4 linked regions of the Homo sapiens genome follow. The protein of the gene in region 2 interacts with the protein of the main gene of each other region in a biochemical or structural test. Each region holds a gene or a part of one and is shown on either strand. Other genes may lie near its edges.

Evidence for each region.
Region 1: of the proteins of UBA1 (region 2) and UBE2D3, one has a biochemical effect on the other in vitro, tested with the Homo sapiens proteins (10 studies listed by BioGRID, with this or other methods).
Region 3: of the proteins of UBA1 (region 2) and UBE2B, one has a biochemical effect on the other in vitro, tested with the Homo sapiens proteins (10 studies listed by BioGRID, with this or other methods).
Region 4: of the proteins of UBA1 (region 2) and UBE2G2, one has a biochemical effect on the other in vitro, tested with the Homo sapiens proteins (5 studies listed by BioGRID, with this or other methods).

What each region holds. Positions count from the first base shown.
Region 1 is NC_000004.12:102,803,543-102,810,568, forward strand, and holds part of UBE2D3 (ubiquitin-conjugating enzyme E2 D3), read right to left. Parts: intron 6,314-7,026; coding exon 6,250-6,313; intron 6,162-6,249; coding exon 6,130-6,161; intron 1-6,129. UniProt on the Homo sapiens protein: Accepts ubiquitin from the E1 complex and catalyzes its covalent attachment to other proteins. In vitro catalyzes 'Lys-11'-, as well as 'Lys-48'-linked polyubiquitination.
Region 2 is NC_000023.11:47,203,812-47,210,837, reverse strand, and holds part of UBA1 (ubiquitin-like modifier-activating enzyme 1), read right to left. Parts: intron 6,571-7,026; exon of another isoform or gene 4,977-6,570; intron 4,891-4,976; coding exon 4,725-4,890; intron 4,591-4,724; coding exon 4,394-4,590; intron 1,216-4,393; coding exon 1,151-1,215; intron 911-1,150; coding exon 715-910; intron 1-714. UniProt on the Homo sapiens protein: Catalyzes the first step in ubiquitin conjugation to mark cellular proteins for degradation through the ubiquitin-proteasome system.
Region 3 is NC_000005.10:134,367,483-134,374,594, forward strand, and holds the start of UBE2B (ubiquitin-conjugating enzyme E2 B), read left to right. Parts: upstream 1-4,113; coding exon 4,114-4,157; intron 4,158-6,900; coding exon 6,901-6,981; intron 6,982-7,112. UniProt on the Homo sapiens protein: E2 ubiquitin-conjugating enzyme that accepts ubiquitin from the ubiquitin-activating enzyme E1 and transfers it to a E3 ubiquitin-protein ligase. In vitro catalyzes 'Lys-11'-, as well as 'Lys-48'- and 'Lys-63'-linked polyubiquitination.
Region 4 is NC_000021.9:44,770,817-44,777,842, forward strand, and holds part of UBE2G2 (ubiquitin-conjugating enzyme E2 G2), read right to left. Parts: intron 6,602-7,026; coding exon 6,483-6,601; intron 2,872-6,482; coding exon 2,731-2,871; intron 674-2,730; coding exon 561-673; 3' UTR 1-560. UniProt on the Homo sapiens protein: Accepts ubiquitin from the E1 complex and catalyzes its covalent attachment to other proteins. In vitro catalyzes 'Lys-48'-linked polyubiquitination. Involved in endoplasmic reticulum-associated degradation (ERAD).

The sequences.
Region 1 (7,026 bases), on a different chromosome or scaffold from region 2:
CATTAATTCAATTAATCTAACCCCTTGCTATATACTGTATGTGTGTTAAGGGATCCAAAGAACAATTTTTTTTATCTTGATGAGCTTACACTGATAGACATGTAAAGTAACTGCAATGAAATGTTATAGGTATCATGAAATATGAACAAGGGACACGAGTTCAAAGAAGAAAGGTCAATTTATTAATGAAGAATCAGGTTCAAAGAAATATACAACTAGTAAATGGAAGAGCTTTTATTTATTTGAGACGGAGTCTCACTCTGTCGCTCAGGCTTAAGCGCAGTGGCACGATCTCAGCTCACTGCGACCTCTGCCTCCTGGGTTCAAGCAACTCTCCTGCCTCAGCCTCCCAAGTAGCTGGGATTACACATATGCACCACCACACCCAGCTAATTTTTGTATTTTTAGTAGAGACTGAGTTTCACCATGTTGGCCAGGCTAGTCTTGCGGCCTCCTGACCTTGTGATCCACCCATCTCGGCCTCCCAAAATGTGCTGATTATAGGTGTGAGCTACTGTACCCAGCCAGAGCTTATTTAAAGTGAGTCCTTCTCCATCTCCCAAGTCTTCCCCCTTTTTTTTTGTAGGGGTGGAGGGCGGGGGGAATGGGAACGGGAAGGGGGACAAACAAGACGCAGAATATCATCTTGCTGTTTGTTGCCCAAGCTCGAGTAAAATGGTGCAACCTCAGCTCACTGCAAGCGCCGCCTCCCCAGGTTCAAGAGATTCTCCTGCTTCAGCTGCCTCAGTAGCTTGGATTACAGGTGTGCACCAACGTGCCCAGCTAATTTTTTATTTTTAGTAGAGATGGGGCTTCACCATGTTGGCTGAACTCTTAACTCCTGACCCCAGGTGATCCGCCTGCCTCAGCCTCCCAAAGTGCTGGGATTACAGGTATCAGCCACCGTGCCCAGTCCTTTTTCATATTTTCTACAAAATATGGAACTAGAAAAACACTCAGGTCACTTAGAATGTGACCTGAGTTTATTAGATTAACATGTCTTTATTAAATAGTTATATTAATTTTGAATAGATGCTTCAAATAGCATATACTTTCACCTGATCCAATACTATACAAGATATGTTTTTTCTGTGTAAAATTAACAATTTAAAGGTAATCCCAAACACTAAAGTTGTTTTTGTTTTTTTTGAGACAGGGTCTTGCTCTGTCGCCCAGACTGGAGTGCAGTGGCACGATCTTGGCTCACTGCAACCCTCTGCCTCCTGGGATCAAGTGATTCTCCCACCTCACCCTCCCGAGTAGCTGGAACTACAGGAGTGAACCACCACAGTTGGCTAATTTTTTTTGTCTTTTTAGTAGAGACGGAGTTTTTGTTGTCTTTTTAGTTGAGAGGCTGGTCTCAAACTGCTGAGTTCCAGTGATCCACCCACCTTGGCCTCCCAAAGTGTTGGGATTACAGTCGTGAGCCACCATGCCCGGCCCCAAACATTGAAGTTTTAATAACCTAATTCCAGAAGTTCTTTGTAAGCTTTCATTTCAATTTTCATAAAATCAAATGCTGTCTATGACTGCTTCTGAATAAAGGCAATCTGCTGATGGGATTTAGGCAAAGCCAAATTTCGTTTCGTTTGTTCGAAAAAAGAACTTTATAAAGAAGGCAAAATATTTCAATGTTACAATTTAACACTAAAGTTCTGCCATGCCAAAAGAGGAAGAACTACGAGGTTCAGAGATAATGAAACTAGGCAATATAAAAAATTGAGACCCTATGATATTTAAATTCTATTATGAATCAGCAGCAAACTACACCAAAAAGAAACAAAATCCCCAAAGAATAAGGAACACTGTGATCAGCAAATCGACTCAAATCGTACAAGTCCAGAATTTATGTTAGATTTTTTCAGAAACCTTCTACTTCTTTTGCTCTCATCAGTGCAAAGTTGCTCCCTCACAGTGCCTCAGCTCTTCTGTGGCAATAAAACGTTGGTATTCTTTTTTTTTTTTTTTTAAAGTGGTGCTGTCGCCCAGGCTGGAGTGCAGTGGTGTGATCTCGGCTCACTGCAACCTCCACCTCCCAGGTTCAAGTAAATTCTCGGGCCTCAGCCTCCAAAGAAGCTGGAATTACAGGCATGTGCCACTACACCCAGCTAAAAATGCTGGTATTCTTATAGGTTGATTTTCTACTCTTAACTGCTGACCCATAAAAATTTGAGTTGCAAAATATATCTCTGGTCAGTTATTCATTCCAGGGCATATATTCAAATGCCTACTGATATTTCTACTTGGATATCTCTACTTGGATATCTCATGTCATGCGTCCAAAACTGAAACTTGTCTCAATCCCTTTTTTCCTGTTTATTAATAGCAAGCCATAACTGAAAGCCATAAACCAGGATCTCATCATCAACTTCTTCCTCTCTTATCTCAGAATCAAGATAGTTATCAAGTAAGATCTTTAAAATTTCTTGAATTAGCTTCTCCTTTATGCCCACTGTCACTACCATCTTAGTTCATGATGTTATCTTCAGCCTAGATTATGGCAATAGCTTACTAATGATTATCCCTCCATCCTAATGATAAAGTGGTCTTTTAAAAATGTTACTCCCCTGCTTGAAATCTATGATAGTTTTTAAGATAATTCCAACTCCTAAGTACATACGGTGCTTTATGATCTGGGTGCCCATCTAGTTTCATCTTCTGTCTCTTCTATAGAACATGTTCTCTACTGCACATAAAATATTATATGGATAACATATCTTTTTCTCTTCCCTACTTGGAATATTCTTCCTTATAATATAGCCCTTCCTTTGTCTTATCTGCTCCCTACCCTTCTTTTATACCTCTTTAAGCACATAGTTACCATTATCCACCCATATATCTAACATTTACTTATATTTCTCTTTTATTAGACTACAAAGCTCCTCAACGAGTAAGGTTAAAGGTGGAAAAAGTCTTCAGGTATCAGTAACCTACGTGGGAAATGACATAATAATACACTTGAAAAAAAAGTTGAAAAAATAATCCTTATGGACCAAATAAAATAGTACCTATGGACCAATTATTTTAATTCAGATAGTTTTTCTGGTTGACTATGCTCAGGCTGCCAAAGGTTACATTTTTCAGATACTTTCACATTTTTCACAGGTACTCTCTTCTACATCTCTGTCATAGATTAGGTGGGAGTTAGTGTTGTTCTCTAAATCCACTTTTTCTGGATTTCCAATAAAAAAAAATTTAAGCAAGTAAATATCAGAGGCAATAGGTAAGGAAGTCAATTTCTTCTAATTACATCAATTCTTGTTGGAAACTAACCTTAATACAGTACCCCACGCCCCCCTCCCCAAAAAAACCCACGCACACAAAAAACTAGCAATGCTGTCATTTCTTTCGAAGGTTTAGTTTTTAGTCAATAGTTGTGCTTCCGAAGTAGCTTACCTTCAGAAAGAATAAGCCAGTACATATGATTATTAAAGCCAAGCAATTTTGCTGCATAACTAATGATCTAAAGGATTTCCCAACAACTCACTAAAATCAAAGTTACTCTATTGAAACTCAAAATTAGATGGTATATTCCCTACAGTCAGGAATCTTCAGTTCTGTGGCACTGGCACCACTTTAAGGGACCTAAGTAGTAGTCCAAAGCAAAAGTGACGTTGTTAACTGTCCAGTTCTCCCACTAAATCTGTAATTTATGGGTTGCTTTAGGTCACAACTGCTTGCTACATAGAGCAACCATACTCACAAAATAAGCTACTATTTATCTTATACAGTGATGCTTTGTCACAAAGAAGTATTGAGAAGCCAAAAGAACAAAATGAGTTGTTTCATTGGTGCACTCCACAGTAAGCATATAGTTAACTATTTAAAGCTGGCATCTAAATTATGTGCTTACTTATGTACAAGACAATACCCGTACTTTGGGTGGATTTTTATAATCTTTGACTCCTTCTTGAAATTTACCCAACCAACAGTGAGAACTAACCTTTTTAACTGAAAACATATTTCAGTGAGTACTGCTACCAAAGCAAAACCCAGCAGTTGTGGTTAATCAGGTTAATATTTAAATGGTTCTGAAAATCACATGCTTCTGTTTGTAAAAGCAGAAAACTGCTAGTCATTATATTAAAAGGTTGCTGAAAAAGTTCAGCAAGGAATAGCCATCACCTGAAATATATATTTAAAAAATGAAAAAAGGTAAATGTTTTCTCAAAATAACAGCAAATTAAGTAAACTGCTAAAAAATCTGTCAGAATAAGCAACACCATTCTCTAAAAAAATTACTACCATACACTCATCATTCATGTTTCCTTTTGATTGTCTATAGGTATGTTCCTTGCCTTTTGGGAAAAACTAGTGTGTTGTTCAAAATAACAAAGTCTAAACTGTCAAGCAGAAAAACCAACTAGTTTTAAAGAGTTAGTTTATTCTGCACACCATCCAATTAGAAGTTTTAATTACCAACGCTTCTGTGCTTTCTTAGTATTGACAATTTTTATAATGAAACTATCAACTACCCTCTGAATCAAAGATGAGCTTTATTTTAAGGCATTTTATAGCATTCTTTGAAAACTGGTAATCCAAAATGGGAAAATTCTAGAGGTTGCAAAAGCAACTGCTTTACAAAACACTAGGCAGATAATATGGAATTGACCTAGTAGGCACTGTGGTAAACACATATCCCATCTAAAAAAGGGAGGCAGCTGTCATTCCATCCCAAGCCATTACTGCTTATGGAATGTGGGCCTACTCAGAAGGCTTTTATTTGAAGACTGCCAACTTTCAAAAATATCGTGTGGGCCAAACTGGGTAACTCAACATTTAACTGCGTGTATTAAAATTAAACAATATTGCTACCAAATTAGATAAAAGTAAGTACTTTTAATAACTACAAAGCCAGGATTGTGCATTTCGTTATTACAGGACTATTTTTACTGTTTTAAATGTTACTTTGTTTTAAAATGATCCAGGACGTTTCAAAGTATTAAACTTAATATTTGCACCCCTGCCATGTCTTACTTTGATTTAGTTTTTCTACCTTTAGGGCACTAACATTTTAATTACTCTAAATTAATCCTCCCTGCTTCAATTTCCCATTAATTTATCCTACTCAGCACTTCATTCACCAATCACTTATTTTCCATCTTGTCACACTTCAGCACTTGTTTTAGGTATCTGTCTCCTCTAATACAGTGTAAGTTCCCTATAAGATCGACAGGGATGTTTATTATGTTCAATTTGTATCCTTATTACCTGGCACACAGTATGTACTCACATTTGAGACAGAAAAATGACTAAAGTTAGAATCAGAATTACTAAATAAATACTTGTTGATTCGACTCATCTACTAACTCTAAGAGCATTTTTTCCTTTAGAATTCTAAATATTACTTACTGACCATTATCTCACCTAGTACATTATTGCTCTTTATGTTGCTTATAAAACCACCAAAAAGGGAAGACAGTTTTCAGGAAGATACACATGTAACTTAGAAAACAAATCCTTAAGCGCCTTAGCAAGTTAAAAAAAAAAAAAAAGTTAAATATTTGTGTAAGATACAGTCTTACCCCAGGATGTTTTAGTGCGCTCTAATTCTCTGAAATTCTTAGATGGTATCCATAATTCTGAATATTCAATTATCCAGCATATAGTTGCTTATCTACCCAGGATAGAAAGGAATTTTGCTATATTCAAAATATCACTTTCTGCCTAAATATATTCAAATTTTGCATAAACTGAAGTTCTATAAAGAATCAAATATCAAAATACAATTAAGCTAGATTATTGGCAGCTGCAGTAACAGAATAAGATCTCTGAGTAACACAACGCATGGCATATCAGAGCCAGTAACTTTGTCTCTATAAATAACAGGAAGTTCCATGACAATGCTTTACACAGTGCTATGTAGAAAAACTGAACTGAGATACAGAGATGTTTGGTAGGTCATAGAGATGGCTATACTCTAGAACGTGAACACAGGGATAGACACAAAGTACACGTAACAAATGACTAACTCATTATGTTTTTTCTTTCAAATGCAGTACAACTATGGAATATCCAAAATAGAATTAACTATATGATAAAATAAACCTACAGACCAAGTTAAAAATTACAACCAAATCAATGCTGGATTTTCACTTAAAACTAAATTTAAAAATTCTTAATACTTACAGGTCCCATAATTGTGGCTTGCCAATGAAACACTAGAAAAAGAAAAAAAACTCTGGTTATCTAAAAATGCACAAGCTTAAAAAAAAATTAGGCATAAAAATCAACTTGCAAGTTACTTACTATCATCCCCAACTGGACCTGCAGAACATTGTGCTGGAGGGTCACGGGCCAAATCACTAAGTTCCTACACCAAGACAGAAAATGGGTGAGTCACATAAGCTTAATTTAAGAAAACAAGCAAATGAGTCCACTGCTTTCAGTTACTTTCACCCTATTTTTAAAGGCACACTCCATCACAATTCACATAAATAATATATTCCATTAGGAGAGAGAACATGCCTGAACATATGCTGAGACAATCATCTTAGCTAGAGTTCGTAAAAATATATATGCAAACACATTGATACAAAATTTTTTATTTACATAAAAGCCAATCTCTTACAAACCGAAATAGCTATAATTAGATATTCTCATAGTTTAAGAGCTTAGACCAGAGAGAGCTCAACATTCACGTTATTTGTTGAACTTCCAAGACCACTTTCAGAGGCCCTCAACTGTCTTAAATTCTTTGTTCTTCCTGAACCATCCTTCCTCCCCAATCCACTAACTCTATTTTCTACCTGAAAACAAACCAAAAAAACTCTCATGGGGCTAAGTACCTTTTTTGTTTTCTAATCTCCTTATTCTCTCAACTCAACCTTTTTTTTTTTTTTTAAACTCAGCATCCATTTTTAACTATTGAAATTTTTTTTTTTTTTGAGACGGAGTCTCCAGGCTGCAGTGCAGTGGCGCAATCTGGGGTCACTGCAAGCTCCACCTCCCAGGTTCACGCCATTCTCCTGCCTCAGGTGCCCGCCACCATGCCAGGCTAATTTTTTGTATTTTTTAGTAGAGACG
Region 2 (7,026 bases):
GGGATGGAGAGATTTTTGAGAACAGGACCTGAGAGTGAAGGCCTCTCTGACAATCTTCACGCTTCACCTAGGCCCCAGATGTGCCCCCAATTCACTATCTTGGGTTGGGCACTCGATGCGGACTGGAGCCAATCACAAAATACCTCAACTGTAGGGTCCCACAGGTTGAACCAGAGATCTGGCTGAGAGAACAATTACCAATCACTGGGTAGCCATTTTGTGCTAAACAGCCCATCATTTAACAAACTCTCATGGATTACCAGGCATTGTACTAACTTCATTTTAATAAATACCAGTTAATCCTCCCCAAACCCCCCATGAGATAGATCACTATTATTTCTACTTCACAGACGAGGAAACTGAGGTACAGAGAGAAGTTACGTGATTTGCCTAAGTTCAAGTAGAGTTTGGATTTGAACCCATATTGATTCCTGTGCTCTTAACTCCAGAATTTCTCCCCCATAATCCCTACAGCCCTGACTGGGAATCAGGTATGACGCAGCCCACACCACAGTCAAGGGCAATAGCAACCAAGCCTCTTTGCTCAAAGGAACTAGGGTGAGGAAAAAGCAGGTCAGGATCAATCACTCTTCTCAGATCCCCATGCCTCAGGGCACCTGCCACAGCTGGACTCCACAGTGGGAGGACCCACACTGCAGGCTCCCATTTCAGGGAAACACATTCTGCCAAATGGACCCAACAACTGGGCATTACCTGGTCAGGAGGGAAGTTGTGCAGCAGCTGCCGGATGTTGTTCGAGTACTGGGTGTGCCAGTGGTGGCAGGCCCAGGTCACGCAGTCAGCCCAGGTCTGTGGTCGCTGCAGCACCAGGCTGCGCTGCACAGCCTCCAGCACCTCCAAGGGCTGAGTGCCTGCCAGCCGCAGTGTTCGCTCCACAAACTTGGGGTCTCTATCAGGAATCGAAGAGGACAGAGGATAGGATTACATGTCAGCCTCAAGAGTGGGCTCCAGAGCAATCTTACTTTCTCCATGGAAAACTAGTCCCGACCCCAAACAACATGAGGCCCCAACAGCCACTCATTCATGTGAAAAGTGTGCCTGGTGCCAAGTGTTACTGTCATGAGGAAAGCAGCCGGGATGCCTTGGCTGGTGGACAGGGACAGGGCGAGAGGGCACTCGAGTTACTCACGTGAGGTACTGGTTGACATTTTCTGCTGGCTGCTTGAAGAGGCCTTCAAACTCATCCCGAGCCCACTGCAGACAGAGCAAACAGATTACATGTGGCCACAGTTGACAAAATGGGTTTCCGCAGGCATTATTAGAAGGACCATCAGTGAATAAAGCAAGTACAAGGCGCACAGCTACTCTGGAAGTGGGGAAGCCCTCTAGCCTTCCCCATTCCCCCACCTCAATTGAAAAACCAGGCCAGGCACAGTAGCTCACACCTGTAATCCCAGCACTTTGGGAGGCTAAGGCAGATGGATCACCTGAGGTCAAGGGTTCGAGACCAGCCTGACCAACATGGTGAAACCCCATCTCTACTAAAAATACAAAAAGTAGCTGGGCGTGGTGGCAGATGCCTGTAATCCCAGCTACTCAGGAGGCTGAGGCAGGAAATCTCTTGAACCCGGGAGGCGGAGGTTGCAGTGAGCCGAGATCATGCCATTGCACTCCAGCCTGGGTGACAGAGGAAGACTGTCTCAAAAAAAGAAAAATCAATGAAGTTGATTTGGGCAGTGGTTACAATAGTGCTGTGTATGTGGAAAACTGTTTTGTTTTGTTGTTTGAGACAAAGTCTCACACTGTCACCCGAGCTGGAGTGCAGCGATGCAATCACGGCTCACAGCAGCCTTGACCTCCCAGGTTGAAACGATCCTCCCACCTCAGCCTCCCGAATAGCTGGGACAGCAGGCACATGCCACCACACCCGGCTAATTTTTAAGATTTGTTGTAGAGACAGGGTCTTGCTATGTTGCCTAGGCTGGTCTTGAACTCCTGGGCTCAAACAAACCTCACTCCTTGGCCTCCTGAGTGCTGAGATTATAGGTGTCAGCCGCCATGCCCAGCCTAAAAATGTATTAAGATCTGAGTGCCAGGCGAGGTGGCTCACGCCTGTATTCCCAGCACTTTGGAAGGCTGAGGCAGGAGAATCGCTTGAACCTGGGAGGCGGAGGCTGCAGTGAGCCGAGACTGCGCCACTGCACTCCAACCTGGGCAACATGAGCAAAACTCCACCTCAAAAAAAAAAAAAAAAAAATCTGTGTACCTTATTCTAGATATGTTATGCCTCCATAAAAAATAAAAACTTCAATTAGGTATATCTTACCACAGTTTTTTAAAACACAAAAAACTCAGACCAAACCAACAATGATCCCTATCCAGGCCCTGAGGACTTGGCAGAAAACAAGACAGAGGCCGGACACAGAGGCTTACACATGTAATCCCAGCACTTTTGGAGGCTGAGGCAGGTGGATCACTTGAGCCCAGGAGTTTACAACCAGCCTGGTCAACGTAACGGGCACGCGTGCGTGCGCACACACACACACACACACGTACACACACTTACACGTACACACAGACACTTACACACACACACACACACACGTACAGACACTTCCCAGGAGTTGGAAGGTTGCAGTGAGCTATGATTGTGCCAATACACTTCAGCCTGAATGGCAGAATGAGACCTGTCTCAAAAAATAAAATAGCAAACAAGACAGAACTTCTGGCCTCTGAGAATTCCTAGGACAGTTCGCAGTCATTAGCGAGGTGGTTTGGAGTGTACAGATGTTAGAAATTCAGGTTCAGATTCCAGCTATGCCACGTATTACCTAGTTTTGTGACTTCAGGCACACAGGATAACATCTTTACCTCTGTGCCTTGTCTCTAAAACAGGTGTTACAACAGTGATACCTACCTTCATGGGGTTGCTAGGAAGAAATGAGCAAATACATATATATTTAAAGCTTGGTTAAAACAGTGCCAGGCACACAGTAAATGCCAAGTGGTTCACAATAGTCCTGTGAGGTAGATGCTGTCATTCCCATTTTACAGAACAGGAATCTGCGGCACAGAGAGGTTAAGTTCAAGGTTACACATGACCTAGCAAGACTGTGGTTGGTGCACAAATACAAACATACCCACTCTGGAACTGCAGTGTCAGAAGGGAGAAAGTGACAGATGGAACTGTTTTTTTTTTCCCTTCCCTATTTTGTTCCCACCCTCATACTCCTACTATTCTAAATGGTTTGGCCTCAAACACTGCACTAAGAATTATTCTGACAGCACAATGGTAATCCCTAGGTTCTGTTTCTTGGCCCAGGTGGTGGTCACCTGTGTGTTCACTTTGTAAAACTTCAGCTAGATCAAGCTTGTCTAACCTGTGGCCCATATGCAGCCCAGGATGACTTTGAATGCTGCCCAACACAAATTTGTAAATTTTCTTAAGACATTATGAGATTTATGCACGGATCTTTTTTTCTTTTATTTTTTCAGCTCATCAGCTATCGTTAGTATTAGTATATTTTATGTGTGGCCCGAGACAATTCTTCTTCCAATGTGGCCCAGGGAAGCCAAATGATTGGACACCCCGAGCTAGATAATATATGCACTGTTCTGTAGATAAATGCACCATACACACAGAATCATCCTGACAAACCAGCTGTTAAACTCATTTTGAGTAACAGCTGGGGAAAACCTGAATATGGACCATTAGAGACAAATAAATAACTAGAAGAGATGGTAAGAATGATTGTTAATTTTGCTGAGCATGAAAATGATGTTTCTGTTAGACAGAAGTAGTTCTCAACTGGGAGTGATGTGGCACCCCTGGGGACATCTGGCAATGTCTGGAGACATTTTGAGATGTCATGATGGAGGGAGAGTGCTATTGGCATCTAGTGGGCAGAAGTCAGGAATGCTGAGAAACATCCTACAGTGCACAGGGCATCCCCTCTCCCATGACAAATAAATAACCAGCCCCAAATGTCAGTAGTGCTGAAGCTAAGAAACCCTGTTCTACAGCAACATATCCTCACTTGGCAGAGGCACTGAAATAGTAGGGAGTAAAGGGCTGTGATGTCTGTGACACATTTAAGCACAAAGAAGAAAAATCTACATAAATCTAAGAAGAAAATGTGGCAAAACATTAAGAATTGTTAAATTTAGGTGAGGAATGGTATTTGAGTATTCATCATAATATTCTTAATATTTGTCTATGTGTTGAAAAAAAAATCAAAATAAAAGTGAAAAAAGAATGAGTCATTCTAGAAACCTAGGCTGCCTGGTGGGAAGTGAGGGAGGGAGGTTTGGAGAAAAGGCACATCTTACACTTAGGCATGCAACATCTGAAGGCAAGGCAAGGGCCTGGGGGCGGAGAGGCAGCAGCCTGGCCAGATGCCTGGCCTCTTTCCCTTCTCCCACAGCTTATCACCTGCAGGGTGTGCTCGATGGCATTAGGGAAGTTCTTCAGGGTACAGATGGGGATGGACTTCTCAGGTGGGTCCTGGCTGGAACTGTACGACTCTGTCAGGAAGGGGATCACCACCTGCACATTGCCTTTGGTGCCCAGTGTGCCTGACTCCAGCAGTGGCTTCCGGTAGTAGACACAGCGGCGGTCCATGTACATGCCTGTGGGGAGCACAAAGCGAGAGCTAGGAAAGAAACATCAGGAGAGGACAGAAAGACGGACACCCCTCTTGGTATATACACACCGAAACACACACAACTTTGCCCGTGACCACCTCACCCGCCTCCAAACTCACGGGCATCCACGTTGTCCAGGGCATTGGCCACGCCATCTAGGTTTTGGAAAAAATCGTCATCATAGATGCGCTCCGTGTCAGGACCCACACGGTTCTGGTGGCTTGTCACCCGGATATGTGGATTCATTTGGCGCACAGCTGCAGCAGCCGTGTCAGACTTTAACTTCTAAAGGGTTAAGAAAGTGCAGTTCCAGGGTGGGGATGGGGGAACAAAGCTCACTTATTTGTGCATTCACCCAACAAACATCTTTATTTTTTTTGAGACAGGGTCTCTCTCCATCACACAGGCTGGAATGCAGTGGCATGATCACGGCTCACTGCAGCCTCAACTTCCCAGGCTCCAGCGATCCTCCCACCTCAGCCTCCCGAGTAGCTGGGACCACAGGTGTGTGCCACCATGCGTGGCTAATTTTTGTATTTTTGGTAGAGACAGGGTTTTGTCATGCTGCCCAGGCTGGTCTTGAACTCCTGAGCTCAAAGACCTCGGCCCCACAAAGAGCTGGGATTACAGGCGTGAGCCACCGCACCTGGCCCAAACACCTATAAAGGGCTGTCTGCCTGAGACTGATTTACTTAATGCTGGGGAAGACCCAGGCCCTGAGTTAGGAGGCTAGCAGGAGAGACGGTCTGTGACAATGCCACATGGCCAGGATGATGATGCATGTGGCAGGGGCTCAGCATAAAGGGAAGCTGTGGACAGGAACAGACTGGAGACAATGGGCCAGACATCTGTTCTTTCGTCTAACACCTGCTATTTTTTCAGGTAACAGCACCCAGGATTGATGCAGACTCCCCCAACCACCACCAGGATGCTGGCACACAGACAAGCAGGATCCTTTCAAAGCCCAAATTGGGCCACGTCCCTCCTCTGCTCAGAATCCTCCCCTGGATCCCACCTCCACTTACCGTAAAATGAGTTGGCTCCCTGACCCCTCCCACCTCAGGATCTTTGCGCAGGCTCTTCCACAGCAGAGGGCACTCTAGTCCCTCATATCCTTGAGGTCTTTGCAGAACTCAGGCCTTCCTTAACCATTGTCATCAATACTACAAACCATTCTCCCTGACACCCCGACTTCCCTTGTCTGGTTTTAGTTGTTTCCTTTGAGGAGCACTCATCACCAACATTAACTATATACCTCACGATCGTATTGTGTCTATTGTTTGCTGTCCGTTCCCCTCTCCCTCCAGGAATCTTGTTTTATTCCTTGGTATATCCCCAATACCTAAAACAGTACTAAAACTATCTGGTGAATAAATGAAATAAATGAAAGGGGGAATAAATCCTGGGTAAGCAAAAACGACACTGCTCCTTACAGAAAGCTTCTCAGAGAACCCTGCATAACCAACCCAGTTTCCATATGTGCAGAGAAGTGTAAGCCTAGGAGACTGAAACTACAACCCTTGGAAAGGCCTGCTTCCAAGGTCGGCTCCTTGGCTGGTGTCTGGGAACTTGGAATTCAGGAAGGTTCCCACCGCTCCCTACCTGGTATCAGTGGTTCACTGTGCCTAAACCGTTCATGCAAACAATACAGTTTACGCTGAACACCTTTCCTTCTGGGAGTCTGGAAATTTTGTTATGTGCCAGGAAGGGGGCGCCTACATGACCAGCCCCAAGTAAAAGAGGTGGTGCTGAGTCTAACAAGCTTCCCTGGTTGGCAACATTTCATGTCTTGTTACACCTTGTTGCTGTTATTTCTGTAGTTACTGTTGCTACTGGGGAAATAAAGGCCGCCTTGTTTAACTCCCGCTGGGAGAAGACTCCTAGAAACTTGCACCAGCCTTTTCCCTTTGCTGATTTTGGTCTGTATCCTTTTGCTGTAATAAATTGTAGCCACAAGCACGACTATATGCTGAGTCCTGTAAGTACTCTAGGTGAATTGAGCTTGAGAGTAGTTTTGAGGACCCCAGACACACTGTCCCAACCAGCACTAAAAAGAGGTTAAGGCAAAAAAAAAAAAAAAAAAAAAAAAAAAACAGAAGCTGAGGGAAAGAAAGGCCAAAAAGAAGGGCTTCTGGCAGAGGCAGAAAGATCTCTGACAGAAAGAATGGGAACAAGAAAAAGGAGGGGTGAGGTGTGGTGGCTCACGCCTGTAATACCAACACTTTGGGAGGCTGAAGCAGGCAGATCACCTGAGGTCGGGAATTCGAGACCAGCCTGACCAACATGGAGAAACCCTGTCTCTACTTAAAATGCAAAATCAGCCGGGCGTGGTGGCGCATGCCTGTAGTCCCAGCTACTCAGGAGGCTGAGGCAGGAGAATCGCTTGAACCCAGGAGGCAGAGGTTGTGGTGGGCCAGAGAT
Region 3 (7,112 bases), on a different chromosome or scaffold from region 2:
CCTGCCTCAGCCTCCCGAGTAGCTGGGATTACAGGCGTGTGCCACCACGCCCGGATAATTTTGTATTTTTAGTAGAGACGGGGTTTCTACCATGTTGGCCAGGCTGGTCTCGAACTCCCAACATCAGGTGATCCGCCTGCCTCGGCCTCCCAAAGTGCTGGGATTACAGGCGTAAGCCACCGCCCCCGGTCAAGATGGTTCTTAAATCAAAAACTTTTCTTGAACACTTGCCATATGCCTTTTAATTTTTTCCAACTGCTAGTAATCTTTTTTAAAGAAAAAAAACCTCCCTCACCACATGTCAAACTCTAGGAAAGCAAGTAATTCGAAGAGTTCCACCATATACGAAATGATGTACAAGAGCACGGAAATAAAGAGGCCAGTGTCTAACTGCTTAAGTAGACATAGAGTTCAACTGGAATGACAGTCCCTAATGAATAACCACCATATCACTAGACCAAGTGCCTAGGGAGTGCTTTCTTTATTGAATAGGGCTTTCTTTGCTTTCTTCTATAAAATGAGTTAAATGTAAAAAAGCGAAATCTCGCTATGCTTCCGCTAAATAAGAGGAAAGGCATTATTTAATAAATCTAGTCTGGTGGGTCCCACCCAGCATGCATATTTAAATCACACCTGGAGAGCTTTTAGAAAGCATCCCAACCCCCACCTCCACACCCCTGCCCCAATGCCAGAGCACCTGATTTAATTGGGATAGCGTAAATAAATTAGTATTTTTGAAGCTTCTCAAGTTTTTTCTATGCTGCTAGGGTTTATATTGAGAGAAAGGAGAAGTGGTCATCGTTTTCATTGATCACCTAAAATATTCAGAATTGTCTTTTCTTTGAAGGTTATTCAGACGGGCGCAGTGGCTAACGCCTGTAATCCCAGCACTTTGGGAGGCCCAGGCGGGCGGATCACGAGGTCAGGAGATCGAGACCATCCTGGCTAACACGGTGAAACCCCATTTCTACTAAAAAATAGAAAAAATTAGCTGGGCGTGGTGGCGGGCGCCTGTAGTCCCAGCTACTCGGGAGGCGGAGGCAGGAGAATGGCGTGAATCCGGGAGGCGGAGCTTGCAGTGAGCGGAGATCGCACCACTACATTCCAGCCTGGGTGGCAGAGCGAGACTCCATCTCAAAAAAAAAAAAAAAAAAAAAAAGAAAGTTATTCAACCACAATATAAAATACCTTCTATAAATAAGAATGTCATAGTAAATCTTATAGTGGGCTCAAACTTGGTGTAAGCATATTATTTGTTGTGGGCTAAATATTTGCAAGGAGGCTGCGCACAGTGGCTCACACCTGTAATCCCAGGGAGGCCAAGGTGGGCAGATCACTTGAGCCCAGGAGTTCCAGACCAGCCTGGGCAAGAGGGCAAAACTCCATCTCTACAAAAAATTAGCCGGGCATGGTGGTGCACACCTGTGGTCCCAGCTACTTGGGCGTCTGAAGGAGAATTACTGGAGCCCAGAAGGTCAAGGCTGCAGTGAGCCCTGTTCACACCACTGCACTCCAACCTGGGTGACAGAGCAAAACTCTGTCTCAAAAAATAAAAAAATTTGCCCAGGACAAAGATGAACCAAACTGAGTCCCTGCCCTCAATGAACTCATAATCCAGAGCTACAGAACTGATAACAGCATACAGTTAATAGCTTTAAAATTATTCCTTCTACAAGTAGGTTATGGCAGGCCTGGTTAACAAGGACAGCCAGTGATTCTTGCTAATACACAGCTGTAAGACTTTATGATGCACATTCACTGAATCAGTTAAAAGTGTTATATCATTTTGGAAAATAATAAACTGTTTCCAAAACAATTATAAATCCCTGTAGTCTCTGAATTCCTTACCTCTATTGCCTCCAGTTCCCATCTTCAGGACTTCGTTGGTGGGTCAGGAGGACTCTGAGCACTTTTGTATCCATTCGTCAGCTCAACAGGGAAAGAGGGGGTAGGAGGAGGACCTCAGCATTGCCCTAATCTTGCCCATAGTTCCATGGAACCAGAAAGGGTTAACTTTTCCCACTTTCCTTGTACCTCCCTTTCTTCAAACCCTGAATTCTGTCTCTGCTTTCAGTGACTGCCTTGACTGATAAATTACAAGGGTTTTTTTGGTTGTTGCGGGATTTTTTTGAGGCAGGGTCTCAGTGGCATGATGATGGCTCACTGCAGCTTCAACTTCCTCGTCTCAAGCGATTCTTCTGCCTCAGCCTCCTGAGTTGCTGGGACTATTGGTGTGCGCCACCATGCCTGGCTAATTTTACTTTTTGTAGAGACAGGATCTCCTATGTTGCCCAGGCTGGTCTTCAACTCCTGGCCTCCCAAAGTATTAGGATTACAGGCATGAGCTAATGCCCCAGCTCATGAGGGATATTTTTAAGATATAGTTTCTCTTTACCATTTTTCTCCATGTAACCCTACCTGTGTGTCTTCCTCCTTTGCTATTGGAAGGGTTAGGACTGCAATGGCAGAAAGGCAAAAAAATTAAGAATATTCAGCTTTTAACTTAAAAAACACATTGCGAATGTCTAACAGGACCTATCAAGAGTTAGGCCTGGCTAACCTGATCACCAAGGCAGTCACTGGAAGCAGAGAGGGAATTCAGGGTTTGAAGAAAGAGGTACAAGGAAAGTCAGAAAAGTTAACTCTGCTTCCATGGAATCAGGGGCAAGGCTGAGGCAATGTTAAGGTCCTCATTCCACCCTCCCTTTACCTGTTGAACTGAACAGTTCCCCAAATGGATACAAAAGTACTCAGAGTCCTTAGTATAACAAAGTCCTGAAGGTAGGAATTGGAAGCAATAGAGGGAAGGACGGTGACCACAGAAAATATTCAAGGTCTTTGGGAGGTCAACACCTCTGAACCCCCTGGTGGTGGGGGGCCCTTCTGGCCCATTTGCACCTTTCTTGCTAGTGTAGAAAACCTGAAGTTATCTCAGGCTAGATATATAACCCTCACTCATGTCTGCCGGAGCTCTCCCCCAGAATATGAATCATATTTGTAGGTTTCTTTGACAACCAACCACTCATTGATATGCTTGGAAGACTGCACCCCCACATTCCTTAAAAATACAATGGTACTCCCCCACCATAGGCAAGTCCCCGGACTCTGACACATATCTTCAATTGAAAGCAGACCCAGAAAGGAAAAACTGCATAATACACCATCCTTTAATATTTGCCCAGAATTTCCAATACTAGAAACCCCACTGCAAAGCAGAAAGACTATCTGGTAGCTTCAAGGAACCATTTCAGGAGATTGTTGTGTGGGCCTCAGTATTCAAGGCTGCCTTAGAAGATCGTGCGATCCTCTCACTCTTCTTGCCCCAAGTACCAGAGTTAATAAGCCACTGAACCAACCAGAGGGGAATTATTTTTGGTCCCGGTTTAAAGAAAACAAAACAAGCTGTTGATTCTGCCATGACCTCTTGGGTAATGTTGTCTCTATACCTGTGATAAACAGAAAACAACTAATAAAGGTTTATCCCGCCCTCACCCTCTTAAACCCGCTTCACAGACCTGGCTGAAACTCACATCCAGGCGAGGCGCTCACGTGACCCGTTCTAAACGCGTCATAGGGACACGTGGTTCTAGATACTTCTCCCCCTCCCACTCAGGGGTGGATTGTTGACAAGGCCGCGGGCAGTCACGTGATCTTACATCATCCCACCTCCTTTCCCTGAAATCTCTGGCCCGGATGCGTCCCTCTTTCTCCACCCCGCCGAGCCTAAACTAGTGACGGGGAGGGAGACGGGATAGTGTTTCTGTTTCGTGGTCTTTGAATCCACAACCTCTAGTCTGAACACAGAGAACACAAATTTGTCTATTACTTCAGGAAGCCCAGGGGGAACCGCGCCCCGCTGAAGGGCTCGGGGAAGGCGCGCTCCCGCGTCCCGCCCCCTCCTCCCCCAGCACTCACACTGTGGTAGCGGCGGAGGGCGGAGGGATCCGGAGGCGGCGGAGGGAGACGTCATTGCAGGGTTGTTTGTCAGTCTCGGCGGCGGCGGCGGCGGCGGCGGCGGCGGCGATCCACAGTGATTCGGCCGCCGCGCCGGGGGGTGGGGGGGCTGCGCGGGACTTTTTTTTTTTCAGACTGACCGCGGGGCAGCTGCGGAGCATGTCGACCCCGGCCCGGAGGAGGCTCATGCGGGATTTCAAGCGGTAAGGGCCTTCACCTTCGCCTAGATGACGGCCCCTCAAAGCTGCGGGGCTGCAGGGCGTGGATCCCAGACACCTTCCCCTTTGTGACCCTCAGAGGGCCGGCTGTGGGCCCAGCGGGACTGGCGGAAGCCGGGTCCTAGCCTCGGCCCTACTCCCATAAGCTTTGCCGCTCGTTCTGGCGCCCGAAGAAATTTTGATACTGCTTCCCCTCCCCACAAAAAGTAAAACGGTGTCGATCGACTGGTCTAGGGTTCCCTGCTGCCCATTTCGGCCAGCTGCCCGGCGTCTCGCCCAGGCGATCAGACATTATCCGCCCGCCCCTGCACCCTGCGGCGCCCCCTTCTTGTCCCCTCAAAGTGAGCTCCTGCGGGAGCTTGTTCCTCTCCGGCAGCACCAGTCAGCTTTGTTTCACGGCCCCGCCGTCTTCTCCGAGGAGCCGTGTTGGGGCGAACCCCTCTCCCGACTCCTGCCAATCCTTTCCATTTGTGCCCTGAGGGTGGGGTCCAGTGCGTGAGGCCCGGAGGTTAACCCATCCCCCGAAACCCGACTCTGTCCCCGCCCGCCTGAAAGGACCTTGGGAACTGACTTAGAGATCTGGGACCTTAGAGCTGGCCACCCCGGCTGCCAGTGCTTTCTGGAACTCAGCTCTGGCTGGTGAAGAAAGCCCCTATCTATAGCCTCCCGAGTCTGGAAAAATGCCTTCCCTTAGACTGGCGCTAATCTGATACTCCCTGGGCCTCCTTTGGTAAATAAAATAGGGTTTTGTTAGGAGGTATTGGGGTTGTGAGATAGAAAATGATTATTCCGTTGTTTACCTTTTATTGGATACTTAGAGACATAGAAAAAATAAGTGAGAAAACATCATTTTGATACTCTGCACATTTTTCTTAACATTTTTTCTGGGGACACCTGCCCTAATTGAACAAAATATCTAGCATAAAAACTTAGATTTGTCGCTCAGGAAGTCACCTCTCAGCTATTATAAAGCCTATGTGAGGCACTTGGATTTGGCCAACTTATTTAATTCATTCGTAGCTTCTCTTAGCCATTTAAAGGTAGGCGTCAAGCAGTGCAGTTCTTCTAAGGCTTCTGTTCGTGGTGGCCTAATTTGCTTGAGATTGACTAAAAACCATTTTTTTAATGTGGACTAGTTGCAAATTATGATGCCCCATGAAAAACAACTGCATATGTATTTGTGTGTGTATATAATGTAGCATTTTTAATTGAGGTTACAGTCTCTGAAAGGAGATGCCCTTTTTGGTGCAAAAGTCATCTTTCTAAAGCTTGAAATCAGCGTATTTGATTAGCACTCATGACAAATTCAGATAGTAAACTAGTTCATGTCATTGTCGCCCTGGCTCCTTACTGTAATGCTCTGCTTAATTCTGAGTTGAATGCATGGCACCTTTTGTAGTTTCCAGAGATCTGCAGGTTACAAGAATTTGACTATGACGAATGTTGGAAAGCCTTGTGTTGAGTCTCCTGATCTGAGAGGTGGATTTGGTGTTAGTGCAGAGCCTTTAAAATAGGGACTGGCAGAAAACCTACTAATTACTTTTTAAAGCCATTGCTGTTTGAAGCAAAAGGAATAGAGTAAATCTGCTGCCTAATACTAGTTTCCTAGTTAAATTTAATGTGTTTTCAGTCATTTTGTGTTTACACTGAGGTTTGCTTTTTTTTTTTTTCTTGTAGCCATTTTGCAGAAGTAGCCTGGTTAGGATACACAGTCTTTGCATGTTTAGAGCAGCAAAATCAATGGTTCTGTAAAAATATTACTTGCTTTTGAGGTTTTAAACTTTTTTTGGTATAAGAGGACAGTCTATATACATCAATTCTTTTTTTTTAAATATATTTTAATTATACTTTAAGTTCTAGGGTACATGTGCACAACGTGCAGGTTTGTTACATATGTATACACATGTGCCATGTTGGTGTGCTGCACCCATTAACTCGTCACTTGCATTAGGTATATCTCCTAATGGTATCCCTCCTTTCTCCTCCCGCCCCACAACAGGCCCCTGTGTGTGATGTTCCCTTTCCTGTGTCCAAGTGTTCTCATTGTTCAATTCCCACCTATGAGTGAGAACACGTGGTGTTTGGTTTTTTGTCCTTGCGGTAGTTTGCTGAGAATGATGGTTTCCAGCTTCATCCATGTCCCTACAAAGGACATGAACTCATCCTTTTTTATGGCTGCATAGTATTCCATGGTGTATATGTGCCACATTTTCTTAGGCTAGTCTATCATTGTTGGACATTTGGGTTGGTTCCAAGTCTTTGCTATTGTGAGTAGTGCCGCAATAAACATACGTGTGCATGTGTCTTTATAGCAGCATGATTTATATTCCTTTGGGTATATACCCAGTAATGGGATGGCTGGGTCAAATGGTATTTCTAGTTCTAGATCCCTGAGGAATCGCCATACTGTCTTCCACAATGGTTGAACTAGTTTACAGTCCCACCAACAGTGTAAAAGTGTTCCTATGCATCAATTCTTGAAGAGATAATATTGAAAGAGGGATGATTCTCAAGCCCTTTCAATTTTTAGATAATTTGGAGAGGTATTTAATAAGTATATATACCTGGTTAATATATTTAAGTCATATGGTTCATTTTAGTTCACAATAACAAGGAAATGGAGTTAGTCTGTGTCTCAAAATAGATGGTATAGTGTCTGTAGGTGTTTACGTGGCCTCCTTAGTGGCCTTAATGTTCAACTTTTTAAATTACCACGCTGGATTTCCAGGTTACAAGAGGACCCACCTGTGGGTGTCAGTGGCGCACCATCTGAAAACAACATCATGCAGTGGAATGCAGTTATATTTGGGTGAGTTGAAAGGTTTAACAAATAATAGGTGTGTGCTGAATCTTTAAGAAAAGTAAACATATAACAACTGTCTAGGAAAAGAAACTGAGGTGGAATGAGAGATCTTAAGGACTAAAACTGCAAGATAAATT
Region 4 (7,026 bases), on a different chromosome or scaffold from region 2:
ATATAACAAATGAAAAGATGTAATTAGATTATAAGAAAAGCATCTGCCTGTAAAATATGAAGGAAGAAAGGAAGTAATGGACTCCTCATGGGGCCCACAGGGAACCAGGAAGGACCCAGAAAGGGTGCCGGGCCCTTCCCCTGTGCTGCAGCTACAGGGCCCCATTTCTTCAGAAGGAGCGTTCTGGGTATTCCATCGTCCCCTGGAAGTCTGGCAGGTACAACCCCCTCAACACTCCAGGGAGGGAGGGAATCCACAGGAAGCCATGAACTGCTGGTTTCAGCGGGGAGAGGTAGTGCTGACAGCTCTGATAATCTACCTGAAGCCCTTTGTGAGGAATACTGTAAAACTGCAGTAAGCTGTCAATATTCGACATTAAGTCATCATTTCAGAAGAGAAGCCTGTTTGAAGTAGGAAAGGTTTGAAAAAAAAAAAAGATGCCATGGTTCTTGCAAGTCTGCCTTGTTTGGTACCAGCACAGAGCATCACTGTCACTAAGTGTGCCGGGGGAGAATGCTGAGCTGCTTGGCGGTGTGTGCGCGCCTGTGCGAGGCCAGGTCTCACAGTCCCAGAGACTTCTGGACGATCTGCTTGGCAATCTTATAGAACTGCTCCCGGTCATCGCGCCACATTTTGGACGCATCCACGTTAGCTCCACTTTCGTCATTGGGCTCTGAAAGAAAAGGGAACACCCTCCATGTAAAAGGGAGTCTTATACGTAAGCAGCCTGGCAAGGTCTCCCATTTATTTAAAACACTGGCGGGGGCTTTCAAGAGCTGTGTCCCAGAAACAAAGAACCTGAGAACTGCATGGGGTCGGCCCCACCTCTAGAGTGCTGGCCACGCAGGTCTCAACGAAAGCCACTCTCATGACTCCTGCGTTCTGAGTGTCTGAAGACACCAGGACAAGTTGTCATCTGTCTTGCTGTGGAACATGCGACAACCACCTAAGCACAGGCCCACACGGCCTCCCACAGCAGCCTCCTGGGCCACTGCACTTCTGGCACCCGGACAAGCTACACGGGGACCACCTGCTGCTTATTTCACCTTTCTCAAGACACTCTGCAGTGTGGCTTCTCTCTCACAGAGCGCCCTCTCAGCAAAACTGCCCCTCACAGCTCCTACCAAGACAATCCCAAGCAAATGTGCAGCCTAAGGTAGACACCTGACCCCAGGATACCTGACCCACCCCCTAGCCAGCGGCACTGGCAGTCACTGCAGAACTGCAGTTAGGAGGCACGGAGGGAGTAGCCAGGGCCTGCCGGAAGGCAGAACGGAGAGAGACCACCAGAACTGGATGACATGTGCTGAGGCAGCAGCTGTGCAGTGCGGCGGTGGCGCTGCTCAGAATGCACGTGGGGACCGGTTCAGAGCAGAGTTGATGAGGATAAAACCCACAGCTGACATCTGAGGACAGCCTGAGCCACTGCCTCCCTCCCAATCTCCAATCCCCTGGCCTGGCTCCCTCCACTCAGCACATGAAGAGGGTTCACGCCTCAGCCCTCTCAGGATACACACTCGCGTCACAGGCCCTGACCTCACATCCCTCTAGACCCCACTCCACGGCACCCAAAGGCTCTGCAGAGAATAGCTGAGTGGCCTCACTCTGGCATCGACCCCTGGCCCTCTGCTGGGTCTGCTCTTTCCTTTCGGACTTGCCGCCTTCCTTTCCCACACCCTTCCTCCTGACTGCCCTGGAAGACCCCTCCCTGCTATGCTGTCACCCTCCGTCCTACTCCATCACCTACTGCCTCATCCAGAAATGACCCCACATCTTCACTCTCGTGTCTGACCCCCTTTTGTGGATGGAGGCCCCTTGTCCCACACACCTCAAACTATTCCCCAAATCCTGCTGTCTCCTGAACCCAGAGCAGCACCTCTGGTAGACAAAGAACCAGGAGTCCCAGAGCCTGTACCTTCAAGGTCTCCCAAACCCACCCCTTCCTCTTAGCCCTGGGACCACTCAGCCCTTCTCTTTTCTCTCCAGGCTACTGCAACACCACGATGTCTCTGTTTGTCTTCCATCACACTATTGGTTACTGCTGCAAGGATGGCCCTTCGAAGGCACAGCTCACAGGACATCACACCCCCAACTCCAATCCCCAGGGTCTGCTGGGGCTCCTCTCCCTGCAGCCTTGGCTCCAGCCAAAATGAGCTGGCAGTGCCCCCATCAAGTCAGCCACCTCCTGCCTCTGGGCCTCAGCCCAGGCTGCTTCCTTTGCCCCAAAACCCCATTCCCTCCCTCCTACCTCATCAACACCTACATGTCCTAAACACACCCCAGACAGCCCCACCAGGAAGTGGCCCGAGAGTCCCTGCATGTGTCTGATCTTAGGGTGCATCCCACTGGCCTCTAACTGCTGGTAGGCTTGGACAGTTCCCTAGAACGTAGGAACAAAGAGTTGGGGTCTTTGTCACACGAAGCTTTACACCCCCAGTCCAGTGTGTGGCATGTAGTGGGTCCTCAATAAACACCTACTGAGGGAAAAAGACGATCAAGGACCAGAGACCAGTTAATTATGGCCGACAATACAATATACAACCCCAGGCTATGCTAGAAGGTATGCTTACAATTGGAAAAGTGTAGGCAGATAACATTAAATGGCAATAGCATGTGTAAACTAACTGCAAATGAGGAAAAGGACATTCTAAAGACAGGATGACGCAAGGCTGGAGAACACCTGCAGCCTGGGTGTCCACGGCAGCTCCTGCCAGGAGGCTCGGGCCTTACCTGCCAGCATGCTCACCACCGACAGCAGGATCTTCTCCACACTCTGCACAGGACTCCACCGCTCCGCGCTGCTCTCGTAGCCCATGGGGTCATCGCCTGGCGCGTGGAGGATGGAAATGCAGACTCTCCCATCAGGGTAGACTGCAAGGGTCAGAGGCAGCCAAGTGAGCCCAGGAATGGTGCCCGAGGCATCGCCGCGCTTGGGCAGGCTCCACAGATAATGAGAACAAAGACTGCAGACACAGCAACCAAGCTGTTTGCACAGCTGGGGCATAGCCTGGGGCCCTGAGTGTCACGCTTCATGTCTGCAGGAATCCCGGTGGGGCCTGCTCACTCACTGACAGGCTCCAGGCTGACCCAGCCAGTTCTAATCAGCTGTCGTAGTCTAATCCACTTTCATATGAATTTTTTTCAAGCAATATATACAAAAAGACTAAATGAAAGGTTATCTGGCAAATATTTTATCAAAATATCTAATGTGATTAGGATTATTTACAATACTTTTCAGAGCTAGTTCCTTAGCTATTTCTAATTCTATCATTAAATCCCTGAACCGGTCTGTGTAAAATATATGTTCACATGGCTATGATAAAGGCAACTGGAATTATGTAAATATCTACAAAAAGAAAGGCACCAGGATTTCTCTTGGTAGCTTACTCTAATAATAAGTAAATTATCATCAGTACAACCTGGAATGTAGGTCAATGTGTCTAAATCAAATCCCTTTCCACCAAATATCATCATTAAAAAGATACACAAGGTCTGATAAAGAGAAATAAATTTTCAATTCACAGCATTTAATCAGTCCTCTTTTACATAAAATTGGGAGGAATTCTCAGATGGCTCCATATATACTCAGATATGCAGTAATCCATCTAGATAGACTCAACTGTAAAATTATAAAGCCATTAAAGTTATAATAATAGAAATAGCAATTTTAAAATACATTTATTTAACTCACCTGAGTTAATAAGCTCTGAATTTCATGAAAATTCACAAATGTGAATGGCGATCACTTACCTTCAAACAGTCTTGTCTTTCATACCTGGTCCTATGTGTTTCCACTCATCCATTGTTTCAGTGGTGAACGTTCAGTGGTGAACGCTCTACTATCCAGGAACTGAACCACAACTTCTCATTCAAGGAGAGTGGAAGAAACTAGATGCATACTTGCCCTGGACATCAGGCTGTCCACCTAAGATCCACATCCACAAAATCAGGAAGTTTCCCACTTCTGTGTTGCCTTCTCCAGGAGTTGGTCCCATAGGGTGACACTGCATCCACAGAAGCATCAAAAGCACCTGTGTCCCTGCCACAGCCCCTCCTTCACCAAGTCCCAGCAGTGCCATGTCCTAAACCTCTCGTGGATCCACACACATCTCTTTATCTTTAGTGCCCACATTTAGTTCCCAAGTTGCCGGTGTCTCTACCCTAGACCACTACAGCCGAGGGCCTGCCTGGCTTCCTCCCACCTGTCCTTTGCACTGTACCCAGAGCGAGCCGTCAGAGATCATTCTGGTCATGCCACTCCCTTGGAGTCTTTCAATGGAGTTCCGCCACTCCCAGGAGAAAACATCAAAACCTTCAGTATTGACCAAAAGGCCTGAGGTAGTTTGGCCCCGGCCTTCCTCTCCCGTCACTTCCTGCGCTGGGCCTTTGCACATGTGAAGGGCCCCTCCTCCCCGAATCACTCAGGTAACTCCTGCTTCACTCCCTACAGATGGTCCATCCAACCACCACCTCTGCAAGGTGCTGCCCAGAACTTCCTGATGTGACTTTGCATTTTGTTTGTGTGATTCTCCTATCAATGTCCATCCCTGTCCTTGGAATATAAGCTCCTGAAGGTCTGCTATTATTTGCTCACCACTGTATACCAGCAACTTTCAGTACGTGTGTTGAATTGTTTTTAAAGTATTTATTGACTAGTTTTTATGATATTGGTAGACCTATAGTTCTCAAAGATAATTTTTAAAAAATCAAAATAATCCAATTACAGTAAGGCAAAAATTTATATTATCTGAGCATTAAAAATAATTACCAGAACATTAAAAATAATAATCAGACCACCTGTAGTACATAGTCACATAAGGTAATCAGTTTATTGGTCATATTTGTCACTAATGCCATGTCACAGGTATTGTTCTGAATAATATATTTCTCCTCAATACAATCTTAGTATTTTAATTACCTACAATCCTCTTCATAGTTGCATTTTATAGCTAACCAATTTGAAACTACTTCAATTACTCTTACCTATCAATTGTATTTTTTAACTTTTTATTATGGAGAATTCCAAAAACACACTCAAGTAGACAGCGTGTGATGAACCTCCATGTTATCATCTAACTCAGGCGCATGGCCAGTCTCCCTGAAAGAAGGCACGCTTCTGAGCATCCCCTGTGCACACAAGACTGAAGCAGCTTTGAGATAAGAAAAGAAGTACCAAATGGTCTCTCTCAGGCAGCCGCCCACTACCTATGTGTACCAATATCTGCAGTAAATGAGAAGTCCTAAACGAGGGTTAGGACAGCAAGTCTATTGGCAGACGGCATTTCCACCAGTGAAGTGGCCGGGGGTGGGGGGGTAGTCCTGAAAACCCCTATGGCAAAGATGTAAAAGGAAGAATGTAAAAGGAAAAAATAAAAACTACAGCTGTTCAGAAATTCCAATTCCTACTACTGGACACATTTTCAAATAAGCTACAGTACAATTCACTTAAATGACCTTATTTTTTTCCTCCTTTTAAAATTAATATATATTAATTTTAGGGCAAAAAAAGATTTACAAAAAGGAAAAAAAATTTCAATCTGAAAAAAGAATCACTTTTAACATTTTTGTGCTTACTTTTCCAGTTATATATACATTTACATGTGAATTTCTTTTTCAAGAGGAAATTATAACAGTGCTACTGCTTTTCCCAGTCAATATAACACAAATACTACTTTGTATCATTGATTCTTCTTTTAGATCATTTAAAAAATCTACATCACATTCTAACATATATGATATAGTTTGGGTGTGTCCCCACCCAAATCTCATCTTGAATTGTAGCTCCCATAATTCCCACATGTCATGGGAGGGACCCAGTGGGAAGTACTGAATCATGGAGGCACATCTTTCCCGTGCTGTTCTCGTGATAGTGTACAAGTCTCACGAGATCTGATGGTTCCGTAAAGGGCAGTTCCCCTGCACACACTCTCTTGCCTGCCGCCACTAAGATGTGCCTTTGCTTCTCCTTTGCCTTCTGCCATGATTGTGAGGTCTCCCCAGCCATGTGGAACTGTGAGTCCATTAAATCTCTTTCCTTTATAAATTACCCAGACTTGAATATGTCTTTATTAGCAGCGTGACAACAGACTAATACAATATATAACTTAATTTATTCTTGTGTTAAAAACCCAGGTTAAGTCAAAATTTTCACCATTACAAATAACACTATGACAAAGATTAGCATAACCCCTTCTGAGCACACACCCATGTGTAAAACTTCCTCCCCAGTGAAGTAGGGTGGCTGGGTCAAATGGCATCCGGTTTTAGGTGCCTGTTGTCTTTTATCTATATTAAACTGACCTTCAAAATTGAAATCATGTGCTTAATACCACCATGCTTACTTGGCTGAATTTCAAAACATAAGAAGTGTTTTCTAAAGATCTACATCATAGACATATAGAATATACCACATTTCAGGTGGCTGATAATATTATCTCCGTACCTATCCTGGTACCACAAAAACTACTTCCAAAAGCACTTACTGTTGGGATGAAACATCTCACAGGTAAATCTCATCTTTGGGGGACTTAACGGGTAATCAAGTGGGAAACTCAGGATGGCAGGAAAAACACCAAACTCAAAGCAGGTGTCTTCTGGGCCCCTAGAAGATATAAAATACGTAGACTGAACTTCAAAGTACATTTTTCAACGTCGACCACAATTGACAAATGGGTTAAGAACATTTTTACCACTTTAAAAATGCACGTGAGGCCGGGTGCGGTGGCTCACGCCTGTAATCCCAGCACTTTGGAAGGCCGAGACAGGCAGATCATCTGAGGTCAGGAGTTCAAGACCAGCCTGGGCAACATGGTGAAACCCTGTCTCTACTAAAAATACAAAAATTGGCTGGGTGTGGTGGCGCATGACTGTAATCCCAGCTACTTGGGAGGCTGAGGCAGGAGAATCGTCTGAGCCTGGGAGGTGGAGGTTGCAGTGAGCCAAGATCTCGCCACCGCACTCAAGCCTGGGCGACAGAGCGTGACTCCGTCTCAAAAAATAAACAAAAATAAAAATAAATAATAAAAA